Homo sapiens: one gene and its partner. The protein of the gene in region 1 purifies or fractionates together with the protein of each later gene. This does not show direct contact. Each region holds a gene or a part of one and is shown on either strand. Other genes may lie near its edges.

The links.
Region 2: the proteins of DHX38 (region 1) and PPP4R3A purify together in Homo sapiens (co-immunoprecipitation; 3 studies listed by BioGRID and IntAct, with this or other methods). This does not show direct contact.

What each region holds. Positions count from the first base shown.
Region 1 is NC_000016.10:72,110,007-72,114,911, reverse strand, and holds the end of DHX38 (pre-mRNA-splicing factor ATP-dependent RNA helicase PRP16), read right to left. Parts: intron 3,957-4,905; coding exon 3,835-3,956; intron 2,500-3,834; coding exon 2,415-2,499; 3' UTR 2,000-2,414; downstream 1-1,999. UniProt on the Homo sapiens protein: Probable ATP-binding RNA helicase. Involved in pre-mRNA splicing as component of the spliceosome.
Region 2 is NC_000014.9:91,458,279-91,466,658, forward strand, and holds part of PPP4R3A (serine/threonine-protein phosphatase 4 regulatory subunit 3A), read right to left. Parts: intron 8,178-8,380; coding exon of another isoform or gene 8,176-8,177; exon of another isoform or gene 8,155-8,175; intron 8,139-8,154; exon of another isoform or gene 7,983-8,138; intron 7,142-7,982; coding exon 6,972-7,141; intron 4,600-6,971; coding exon 4,457-4,599; intron 3,962-4,456; coding exon 3,771-3,961; intron 3,330-3,770; coding exon 3,103-3,329; intron 592-3,102; coding exon 481-591; 3' UTR 1-480. UniProt on the Homo sapiens protein: Regulatory subunit of serine/threonine-protein phosphatase 4. May regulate the activity of PPP4C at centrosomal microtubule organizing centers.

The DNA of each region.
Region 1 (4,905 bases):
AAATGTACATACACACCATGGGGTACTACACAGCTATAGAAAAGAATGAAATCATGTCCCTTGCAACAACATGGATGCAGCTGGAGGCCATAATCCTAAGCTAATTCTTGCAGGAACAGAAAATCAAATACTACTTCTTCTCACTTATAAGTGGGAGCTAAACATTGAGCACACAGGGACATAAATATAGGAACAATAAACACTGTGGACTACTTGGTTGGGAGGAATAGAGAGAGGGAAATGGGTTGAAAACATACCTGTTGGGTACTATGCTTACTACCTCGGTGATGGGATCCATACCCCAAACCTACCACATCACACAGTATACCCATATAATGAACCTGCACATGTACCCTCAGTATCTAAAATAAAAGTTGAAATTTAAAAATTTTTAAAAAGTTACTAATGCAAAAAAAAAAAAGCGGGGGGGAAGAGGACTTGAGACATTTCTCCAAAGAAGATAAACAAATGACCAATAATAAGCACATGAAAAGATGCTCAACACCACTAAATACTAGGGAAATGCAAATCAAAACTGCAATGAGATACCAGCCATTAGGATGGTTACACTAAAAAAATACAGACAATAACAAGGGTCAGCCAGACTCAGGAGTCCACAACGGGGCCATGGTGCTAGAGACCATGTCATAGGTATGCTTTTGTACCTCTAGAAAAACAATCAGTTGCCATCTGAAGAAAAGACAGTGAGAATCAGAATATTAAAGCTCGAAGGAACTTTAAGGAAGATCGGAATGGAAAGGATCTGTAATTTAAAAAAACACTGGAAACACAGGAAGAGACAGAGCCTTGAGCAGAAGCTCCAGTACCGTGGCAAATTCAGGGGGAGCTGCTGTGGGCAGGGGACCCCTCCATTCCTCTTGTAGCACCCACATGTACCAAGTATCCTTTACCAGGTGTTCCTTGCTTGTAAATACGATGGTTGAGTTGGACCCATTGTTTTAATAGCCTCTCTGACCTTATTTTTTTATCTAAGGGACTTAGTGAGTTTGTGACCAAGGTCACAGCTTATTAATAATAACTGTTAAGTAGAACCTCAATCTTTTTCCTACTCCATTGCCTGATTCTGTAAATAGGTCACACATCAGCCAACTTCTAGTCCTCCAACCTAGGGCCAAGATTAGAATGCTTCCTAGGCAAAGTGCTGGCAGCCCTCTCTTCACTACAGAGCCCTGAGAAGCCCATTTCCACCTGCATTCCCCCAAGGGGGCTAGAGGGAAGAATGGAGGCAGAGGTGGTAGCTGGTGCTGGCTGGCAAAGCTAGGCTTCTGAGCTCACCCACAAAATTGACTTACATTTTAACATTTATTGAGTTATAAAACATGGAAAGGCAAATCCCAGGAACAGAGGGAGAAAGGGATCAGAACAGCACAGCAGGCCACGCACCACAGGGCTCACGCCGGCACTGGCCTGGTATCAAGGTGCTTCCGAGCCCCAATCCTGTCTGTGACTCAACCCCAACACAGAACCTGCCAACCAGCACACCTGGCAGAAGCCCAGCCTGGAGGAATCACAACATATACACCATGGTTAGTGGAAAGGGCCAAACACCCAAAAAGCCACCTCAGCAGACTTAAGAGACTGCTTAAAAAGAGAAAAGACTGGTGATTCTGGTGTAAGGGTCACCTTTTACGTGAAAATCAATAAGCAACATTTTACACTGTTTTTCAGTCAATGGACAACCCTTACCCTCTGCCATCCAGAGCAATCACATGGACCTCTTTCAAGCAGCCAAACCACCCCAGGGAAGGCTGGGGTGGACTCCTGCGCACTTCCCTCCCATGACCTGGCCATCAAGGCAGACCTGCCAGTGCCCCCCAGCCTCAGGAGCAGCTGGGCACCCTCAGAGCTTGGTCTGCCTTGTGCAGAAATAAGGGCAGAGTTCCAGGACGACCCATGCAAAGGAAGTCAGGGCAGGCTTCTGCACCCCCCACCTTTATTACATGATTTAAGAGGGTGAAGGAAAAAGTCAGACATGCAGTCATGTTTTACAAATAATAAATTTATTTCCAAATCCTGAATTATAACCAAATTACAATTCCCTTTAGGTCTTTTTTGCTGCTTTACACAAGGATTAAAAAAGACAGCCACAGCCAAGTCACGCATACACCAAGTGTCCTGGGCCAGTTTTAGATGCGATGGGTCCAGCCACCTCCCGCTGCCCCGGCAGCACCTCGGATACTCTGCAGCCCCGCTCCCGCCATGCCGTGCTCCTGCATGGAAGAACTCCACCTCCTCTGCCAGAGAGTCTGGTCCAGCAGGAACTGCCCTGGGGGGCCGTGATATGCACAGATGAAAGTCCTCAGATGAAAGGGCTTTGTCCGCAGCCTCAGGGCTCCCGCCAGAAGGCTGAGGACCCAATACCTGCTGCCATCCTCTCTGGGGACAGCCTCAGCTCACAGACCAAAGCGGGCTGGCGTGCGGCGAGGGGTCATGGGCTCCCCTTGCTCTTTCCGGCCTGGAGTGTAGATCTTCGTAGACCTGGAGACACAGCAGGAGAGATCAGGAAACACCGTGCCCTCACCCACAGCCAGGAGGGCAGGAGGATGCAGAGCCCCAGGACTTACTGTTCCTAACCCATGGTGGGGAGCTCTGGGCCGAGGGATCTCCTCCCCGGCACATTCTCACTCCTCTGCCGTCCCCATGTTCGACTGGCGATGTAATCAAGGAAGCTCACTCATTCCGATATGCTTTAGATCGGATTTTAACAACTCCTCCCACAGTCCCTAGGGGAGCTACAAAAGCAGCTTCCCTCCACCTCACGTGCGCCACTCCAACTGTGTAGCAGCCTGCCTTTGTCCCCAGTGCCTAGGAGCCAACTCTAAACCCTTGGAATTTCCCAAGTGACTGGAGTGTCTGCTATTCATGGGGGCCCCTCAGCCCTCGTTTGAGAGATTATGCTAATGAGGTGACTCTTGGTGAACCCCTTGAGTTTATCTAACAACATGACTCAAGGCAGGCTGGCCTCTCTGCCCCGGGGTTAGCACTGGTGCTCTGAGCCACGTGCTATCAGCCTCACCTCTGGGGAGGAGGGGGGACTGGAGGCTGAGCTCTACCACATGACAATGATTCAGTCATTCATGCCTAAGTAACAGAACCCCAATGATAAGAACTCTGGACACTGAAGTTCAGGTGAGCTTCCTGGCTAGCAATAACCTGTCATACTGTCATGCATCAGTGTGCCACGGGGGGACGTGGTCCTGAGGACAAACGAGGCTTCGCATTTGAGACCCTCCCAGACCTTGCTCTATGCATCTCTCCTTTTGGCTGGTTCTAATTTGTACCTTTTTGGTATAATAAAGCTATAATGGTAAGTACGGCACTCTCCGGAGTTCTGAAAGTCATTCTAGCAAATACTGAACCTGCAGGGGTCCATGGGGACACCAGTAAGGATGGTGTCTACACCTGCAGCTGGTATCTGAAGTGAGGGCGTTCTCACGGAGGCCTGTGCCTGCGACCTGTCAAGTCTGGCCTAACTCCAGGGACCAGCACAGACGCAGAAGCCCAAGGCGCACTTCTCACCACTGCACTGGGGTTTCCAACCCCCTCGCTCATGAGTAAAGCTGTGAAACCCATCCTGCTACTCCAGGCTGCCTCAGGCCCTGAATCCCTGCAGGTGTACTGTCGCTCCTTTAAAGCTGTCAGGAACTCCTCCCACACATCCATGTGACCACCAAATGCACAAGCAACTTCTGTCACCAGTTTGCCTTCACACATGCACCTTCCCATAAATCCTGACCCTGCATCAGGGCCTGGTCTCTGGCAGCCTCCTGGGATGGGTGCCACCCCAGCCAGAGCCCGAAGGCCGGAGCTCACCTGACACTGCCCAGGGGGCTGCGCTTCTCCTGCTCCTGCCGCCGGGCTCGCAGCTGCTCCTCGGCCAGCGCCATCTCCTCCTCCATGGCAGAGGCTTCCTCTTTGGCCCGACGACGGTTCTCCTATTGAAGAGGGACAGACCTGGCTGAGCCTACTGGGGACCACTAAGGAAGGAGGCCTCGTCGGCACCCAAGTCCCTGCCACAAACCAGGTGCTGCATCCACCAGGCCAGTGCTCCACATGGCTGCCTGCCCCAGTACCAAAGCCGCCTTCTCTTCTGCAGCTGAGGCCTGCTTTTTTCACTGACTCAAGACACTGGACAATCAGTCCTAACTCAGTCATCCCTCAGTCCAGGAAGTACTTACATTTCCTTCTTTTTTGAAAAATCAAGTTCACAACTATGCTAGGAAGTACAGAAAAACAGGGAAGATGTGATTACCTGCTGGCTGGAAGAGACAGGCATAAGATGCAAGGGAGCCTGGTATGGGGAGAATTATGCTACGAAAAGGGGTAAGCCAAAGCCCAGCACCATTTTGCAACCCTAAATATGGATCTAGGCAATGGCCATCAACAGACGCTAAAACCTCAAGATGGAGGAGCAGTGGAAACCTATCAGGGAAGAGGCAGGCTGCCACCACTGGGGCCCCTCATCCATCCTCCCATCAGCAAAGGTGGGGCCACCAGACCTCACATGCCTCCTGAAGGCATCTAAGAGGAGGTTCACAGTGCCACATGCAGGCATCTCTGCCACACGCAGCTCAGCCGGGATCTAATTGAGCGGTTGGACTCATCGCCAGCTTACAGCAAGTGCACGAAACACAGGCACAGGTTAAACACCGCTGTGAGCAAGCAATGAGGCAAATACATCATATGGACTATTCGACAGGACAAATGACCTGGCTGCTCCAATAAATCAATGTCATGAAAAAAAGCGTGGGGTGGAGCCTGTTCTAGAATGAAACAGTTAACACACATAAGCAGTTGCAATGCCTGGATCCTAATTCAAGCAAATCGATCATAAGAAGTTATCTTTGAGATAAATGGAGAAATCCAAATGCGGACTGGAGACTT
Region 2 (8,380 bases), on another chromosome or scaffold:
CCTGTTGTAGCTTGACTAAAATGTTCAGAATGTATGATTTTAAAGGCAGGTCTCTTTATACAAAGAAACTGCTGGCATTCTTGACTAGTGAAGAATTATGGCAGAAAGGCCCATTCTTCTGAGTCTCAAACATGGTCCAAGAAAGCATATTCTGATTGTAGCAACTGACCAGTCAATCCAGAGTTCCACTTACAAAACCCCTGCCCTGTTGGCTTTTTGTTTCCATTTCCTTCCCTGAGAAAAGGGCAATGTGTGGTCCAAGCTGGAGAGCTCAAAGGCTTAAGTCTTTCCCCTAAATATATGATATCCCCTCCTCCTGCTCCATTGAATTGGCACTTGATGAGCAGAAGTCAAGTGTAAGAGGCTGATCTGTGTCAGTCATTCACAAGAGACCACTGCGCTTTGTTGTGGATTTTGTATGGGGGAGGGGTGGAGAACCAGTTTTTTTCAACAGGTACTGATCCTAGGCCGTTGCCATTATTATGAATCAAATTTTGCTTTCTTTGACAATGGTAACGTATCTTCCTTATCTTCATCCTCATCATCATCTTCATCATCATCAGGATAATCTACCAGACCCACGAGGCCTCCCTGTTAAGAAATAAGGATTATTTAAAGAACAGAAAATAAAACATATAAAAACACTGGTGTTTTCTGGCTGGAGAAAGAAAATAGATCCTACCAACATAGTAACGGTGGTTATTTCTGGGTGGTGGGACTGTGTTAAACTTCAATTCATTATGTTTACATATTTTCTAAATTTCCTGTAATAAACATGCATACTTTTTTACAATAAGGGAAAACTTTGAGTTAATTAGAATTAAAGCAAAAATTTTTTTTTTCCAAGTCGGAGTCTCGCTATGTCACCCAGGCTGGAGTGCAGTGGTGCGATCTCGGCTCACTGCAACCTCCACCTCCCAGGTTCAAGCAATTCTCCCTGCCTCAGCCTGCCGAGTAGCTGTGATTACAGGCGCCCGCCACCACGCCTGGGTAATTTTTGTATTTTTACTAGAGACAGGGTTTTGTCATGTTGGCCAGCCTGGTCTTGAACTCCTGACCTCAGGCGATCCACCTACCTTGGACTCCCAAAGTGCTGGGATTACAGGCATGAGCCACTGCACCCAAACTAAAGCAAAAAAATTTAAGTAGTTTATAATCCTAGCAAATTACCCAGGAGTTAGAAAATGAATGAAAAATGTTTGTTTCAAGACTTAATAGCATCTTAAAATTTTTTTAAACATAAAGTCTAAAATAGTATAAAAATGAGGCTGAGCATGGTGGCCTGTGCCTGTAATTCCAGCACTTTGGGAGGCTGAGGCGGAGGGATCACATGAGGACAGGAGTTTGAGACCAGCCTGGCCTGTTAATTAACATAGTGAAACCCTGTCTCTAATAAAATTACAAAAATTAGCCAGGTGTGGTGGTGCACATCTGTAATCCCAGCTACTTGGGAGGCTGAGGCACAAGAATCGCTTTAATCTGGAAGGTGGAGATTGCAGTGAGCTAAGATCACGCCACTGCACTCCAGCCTGGGTGACAGACTGAGACTCTGTCAAAAAAAAAAAAAAGTACCAAAATGAAAACTGCAGCAGATAAAGAGACCACCAGAAATGAGGGTAGACAGGCTTTTTCTATTTATTAGAGGTTAGGAAAGCAGTTCTACCCTGACTCTTCCTCATCATTTCATCTGGGTTTCCTTTTAGCCCTGCTCCTTCACCAGAAACCACTGCCGCTTGCTTTATTTATTTTTTGAGATGGAGTCTCACTCTGTCGCCCAGGCTGGAGTGCAGTGGCGCCATCTCAGCTCCCTGCAAGCTCCACCTCCCGGGATCACACCATTCGCCTGCCTCAGCCTCCTGAGTAGTTGAGACTACAGGCGCCCGCCACCACACGCGGCTAATGTTTTTGTATTTTTAGTAGAGACGGGGTTTCACCGTATTAGCCAGGATGGTCTCGGATCTCCTGACCTCGTGACCCACCCCCCTGGACCTCCCAAAGCACTGGGATTACGGGCGTAAGCCACCGCGCCTGGCTGCTGCTTGCTTTATTTCGATGCTAAGGGAAAAATTCACACTGCTCTGCTCTCAAGCCTGCCTCTTCATTTCAGCGTGTCTCAGATTCACTTCTTAGCCGTCAGGAGTCTCCAGCTCACGCCAGAAAAAAAAAAGACTGAATGGGCATTACGTGTCTGATTTAGATCAGTGATTCCCAAATGCCAGTCTTTTAACTGCTAGTCTGCTAGCCCAATAATCAATATATTATGTCTCAAAAGAAAAGGGTGGTTGGCATAAGGAGCCCCCAAAACTGGTTTTATTCTGAGATTGCATGTTTTCTACATTTTTTCTTAAGATTTTGTTCCTTTTTTTTTTTTTTTTTTTGAGATGGAGTCTCGCTGTTGCAGTAGCGATCTCAGCTCACTGCAAGCTCCGCCTCCCAGGTTCATGCCATTCTCCTGCCTCAGCCTCCAGAGTAGCTGGGACTACAGGCGCCCGCCACCACGCCTGGCTAATTTTTGTATTTTTAGTAGAAACGGGGTTTCACCACGTTAGCCAGGACGGTCTCGATCTCCTGACCTCGTGTCCTGCCCGCCTCAGCCTCCCAAAGTGCTGGGATTACAGGCGTGAGCCACCGTGCCCAGCCCTTGTTCATTTCTTATATGAAATGTTAGTGATAGTAGATGTTTAATTTTCTTAACAAACCTTAACTGGCAAAGTAAAGTTAGAAGTACCCAGATATTTAGATTATCATTTCCCCACAAAGGCTTTATCTGGGTATTAGTTAGGAACATTTATTCAAGAATAACTGAAAACCTTGAACATTTCTGTAAATGTTTTGACATACAAATTTGAAGTTTCAGTTCTAAAATCCAAAATACCCAAGTGAGAATTCACACTATATGCAGACTTGCATTGGTCATAAAAAAAACTTTCAGAAATTTCTCAACCTTTATATAAGTTCAAGCGGTGGGGGGGACTCATCCTCTAGTTCAGGGATGTTAAATCAGTTCTAGGTGGCAGTAACCAAAGGGAATCTTAGTCAAAATTATTGTTGAGAAAGCTTCAATTGGGAAAAAAGGGGGCAAAATGGGAGTCAAGAATGTACCTTTGTAGTAATAGCTGCCGTCTGAGATGTATTTTTAGGTACGGATCCAGGAGAGCCTGGAGATCCTGGGGATCCAGGTGATCCCGGAGAACCAGGCAGATTTGTTGTAGATGACTGGCTGGTGAGGTTAGTCTTCGTTCCACTGGACAGGGAAAGCTTGAAACTTGGGCTCTGCCGTCCAGAAAGGTTTGTTTTCAGAAGCACTTCCTTTTCCTCACTTTCTTTTACTAAAAATGAGAATACTGTCAATAGTCGTCCCCCATACTTCTTTTTTAAATTTCCCCAAATGAGGTAACACTAAAACACATTTAACTAGCTTACTACGCTGGGTAGAAACATTGAAGTTCAATTTATAAAAGAAGCTTACCAAAATACTAACCACAATTCCATTCATTGGATCTTACCCCAGAGAAGAATTGAAACCTTCAGAATCATATTTAGTATCCCTACCCTTCCTGAAATAGTATATTCCTTATTCAACTCAAATTAAGAAAACTTAAGTTTATGCCTACACAACACTGCTATTCAGTCACATCCCATAAAGCAATAGAGTCTTTAAACCGTATGCCATCACACCTTCCAAGCAAATAATCATTTTGTCAAGAAATAAGAATAAATCTAGAGTAAGAAAGCCTTAATTTTCTCTTGCCCATTTTTTTCCAACATACATTTCTTCCTTTCCATGAATTTACTTATTGGATCCATAATATCATCATCATTTTTAGTTTTGTCAGATGGAGACACTACAGCTTCTCCATCTTCCATGTCATCTTCATCTGTGTTAAACCACATCTCTTCTTCATCTTCTAGTGTTCTGGCATCTCTTCGATATCTGTGATTCCTCAAAATGGAACGCATACTATGAGTAGGGAAGAAAGAGTAAATACAATCATATATGGACTTAATTGTACTGTTACAGATGACTTATTAAACTTGTTAACATAGGGAATTAACATGAAATTTACAAATATTAAAGTATCAATGTAAATCCAGGTATTTAGATTAATGTACAAAATTTTAAATAATAATTTGTAACCTTAGTAACTTGTAAATTCAAAGCAAGTAATATAATCCTCTGATTTTATTTGGAACACATGAAGCCTCACTTCCACTGTTTGGTCTTTTTTTTTTTTTTTCCCTTATCTAGCCTGATACATGCCTGAGGTATTATACTAATAACCAGCCTAATCTTCAGGGAAACATTTATGTTGACCCTTACAGGAAGCTACAATTTCTATTTGCTATCTGCTGATTTCCCTGTTCCTTGTCAAGCCAAATAATATCAAATAAACAATAAAGCCACTACCATACGACTTGATGCTGAACGAATAGGTTTAAATATATGGTAATTTACCTGTCAAGTTTGGGATTATCTTGCCTTTCTCTTTGTTGTTCAAATCTCAGTTTTAATCCTTTAAATGTCTGTACATAATCTACATCTTCCAGTGCTTTCCAGTAATTTTCAATTACATGAGCAGTTAATGATTTTATATCTTCCTACAGAAAAGAATAGTAATGAAAAAATGATAGGAAAATGTCATTTTAGCAAGATGAGGCTTAATTTAATCAATTCATACCCACCAAAAATAGCTTAATTTAATAAAACTACATAATCTTAGAGATAACCAAACAATAAAAAATGGGAATAACGTACACTGGCTACTATAGTAGTCCCCAATTTATCTATGGGTCTTTTTTTTTTGAGATGGAGTTTTGCTCTTACTGCCCAGGCTGGAGTGCAATGGCATGATCTCGGCTCACTGCAACCTCTGCCTCCTGGATTTAAGCGATTCTCCTGGCTCAGCCTCCAGAGTAGCTGGGATTACATGCATGCACCACCACGCCTGGCTAATTTTGTATTTTTAGTAGAGATGGGGTGTCTCCGTGTTGGTCAGGCTGGTCTCGAACTCCCGACCTCAGGTGATCTGCCTGCCTCGGCCTCCCAAAGTGCTGGGATTACAGGTGCGAGCCACTGCACCCAGCTATCTATGGGTCTTTACAAAGTAAATGCCCAGGTCTTGCCCTAGGTGATTCTGATTCTGATGTGCGGGCTGGGTATGTGTATTTTTTAGAGATGGGGTCTCGTTCTGGCACCTAGGTTGAGATATAGTGGTATGATTATAGCTCACTGCAGGCTTGAACTCCTGGGCTCAAGCAATCCTCCCACCTCAGCCTCCTGAGCAGCTAGGACTATCGGCATGCACCACCATACGGGGCTAAGTTTTAACAAAAAATTTTTGTAGAGATGGGGTCTTGATATGTTGCCCAAGCTAGTCTCTAACTCCTGGCCTAAAGCAATCCTCCCACTTTGGCCTGCCAAAGTGCTGGGATTACAGGCATAAGCCACTATCCCTGGCCATGGACATATATGTTTTATTAATTAATTTTTATTTTAGGTTCAGGGGGTCCATGTGCGTATTTGTTATACGGGTAAACTGCGTGTCACAGGGGTTTGGTGTATAGCTTATTTCATCACCCAGGTAGTAAGCACAGTACCCAATAGGTAGTTTTTCAATCCCCACCTTCTCCTACTCTCTACCCTCAAGTGGCTCTGGTATCTGTTGTTGTTCCCTTCTTTATTTCCATGTGTACTCAAAGTTTAGTTCCCACTTACAAGAGAGAACACACAACAGCCATGCGTATTTTAAAAGCATGTCACAGGCCGGGTGAAGAGGCTCATGCCTGTAATCCCAGCAGTTTGGGAGGCCAAGGTGGGCAGATCACCTGAGGTCAGGAGGTTGAGACCTGCCTGGCCAATAGTGAGACCCTATCTCTACTACAAATACAAAAATTAGTCGGGTATGGTGGCGCATGTCTGTAATCCCAGCTACTCTAGAGGCTGAGGCAGAAGAATCGCATGAACCTGGGAGGTGGAAGGCGCAGTGAGTCGAGATCATGCCACCGCACTTCAGCCTGGGTGACAGAGTGAGACTCTGTCCCCACCCCCCTCCCTCACCCCCCAAAAAAAGCATGTTACAGAAAAGTTCTGGAGATGAATAATGGTGATGGCTGCCAACAATGTGAATGTTTACTTTAAAATGGTTAAAATAGCAAGTTTAATGTTTTATATTATTTTATCCCAGCTTTTAAAAAAGCACGACATCCAGGTACTGTGGTATGCACCTCCAGTCTCAATTACTTGTGAGGCTAAGGTGGGAGGATCGTTTGAGCCCAGCTGGGCAACATAGCAAAACCCTGTCTCTAAGAAACAAACAAAACAAAAAGCCATGCCAGATAAATTTGCACAGCATCAATGAGAACCACTAGCTTATTACATTACTAGAGAATAAAGAGTATTATGAAATTGGTCTTTAGAAATGTGTAAGTTAAGAAAAACACATTCAAATGCTTATCTGTCAAGTGTAGTTTTGCTTTCTTAAAATGATTACTGTGACCATCCTACAAAGCAGCAGTCCCTAACCTTTTTGGTTTCATGAAAGACAATTTTTCCACCAACTGGGGTGGGAGTGGGGGAGCACAGTTTCAGGATGAAATTGTTCCACCTCACAGTTAACCAAAGGGTTCATGCTCCTAGGAGAATATAATGCTGCTGCTGATCTGATAGGAGGTAGAGCTCAGGCAGTAATAATGCCTGCTTGCCAGCAGCTTACCTCCTGCTGTGCAGCCTGGTTCCTAACAGGCTATGGACCGGTCCGCGGCCAAGGGGTTGAGGACCCCTGCTATAACAGATTTGTAGCTGCTGAGAGGTAAGATGTAGCTTGACTCAAATCTCTCACAGGCTTTTAGTACTTTTTTTTTTTTTTAAATCTCTCCAAATATTATCATCTCAAGCCAAAATACTAGGTAATGCATATTCAATTTTCTCAAACAATTAAAATGAAAATTCTAATTAAAAATACAGAACCTACCACTCTAATAAATTCAAACATCTCTATTATGGCAGAGTTCATCAGATTGTAGCGGGATCCATTGTTGAGAAATGCTTTCACTACTGGTTCAAACAAAAAACTTTTCATTATGTAGCGGTTGTAAAACTCATCTTTTAATCCAATAATCTTTCTTTTAAAACGAAGGGCACCTGAAACACAGAGGCATGGTTGTTTAAATCACATACCACTCTTCCATACTTTAGACTTACCAAACAAAAATAACCATCAAACCAAAAAAAACTGTTTAACACATATCAATAATTATTTATGATGTTTGCACTTCCGGAACTGTGAACCTAAAGATAAGGATTATGAAAATGTTATCAGAAAAATGTCTTCTAAAAGTAGTATATGTCATCATAGAACACAAGTCTTAGAAAGCCAGAAAAATCCTGAAAATAAACCAGTTACTAATGACCAAAATGTAATTTACATCTAAAATAAGAGCTAAGACAAATGAATGAACCTATCACACTACTTAAGATGAAAAAATTCAACATGACCTTTTATATCCACCTTAATAGAAAAAACCAGTGTTTTATTAGGGCAATCCACTGTATAATTTGATCTTCAATATTTTTGGACACTCTTATTATTTTGCATTGTAGTTCATGGAATTTTATTTATTTGTGGATGTGGCTGTAGAAAGGCCATCAACCCACAAAAATCTGCATGACCCAAAATTTGCCTTGCCATAGTTTAAAAATAAATTTAGAGGATGTTATTTAAAATGTGGTCCTCTATGCTTATTGTAGCGAGTATGCTTTTTAATTTTTTTCTAGTTTTCATTTTCATAATTAATTAGGCTTTAACTTACAGATTAAAAGGTATATTTACATCTTGAGGTATGGGGAGTTACTTAAGTCACCATTCATCAAGACACAAATATACTCAGACAGCTAGACTTCAACAAAGCCCTCTTTACCTAAATGGAATTATCAGTAAGTTAATGCCCCAGTTATTGTAAACAGTGCAAAAAAGCATACTCACTTCATGCAGTCACATCGTCTTCGGTTGGCAAGATTAAATATTGTGTTTGTATTTTGGTTTCTTTGGAGATCATGGAAGTGGCTCGTTAAATTGCCAATTTGCTATTAATCAAGTCCTTCATGAGCAGGTAGCCAGGCAACCATGCTGACACGGTTTCTGGGTGGGAAGGCAGAGGAGTAAAGCAGCTCAATTTTTCTTTAGTTGGCAGAAAAGAGGTCCACAAGTGAATGCCCAATTAGGTACAGTTGATTATTAACTGCCTTAACAATGCAACTTATTTAAGAGTGTATCTTTCTTAAGAAACACTCTGGGCAGGGAGTTTCTAAATAGTTTATAGAATAATAATTGCATTTTATTTTTTAAACTACTGAATATTTTTAAAAACATACTCATGGTGA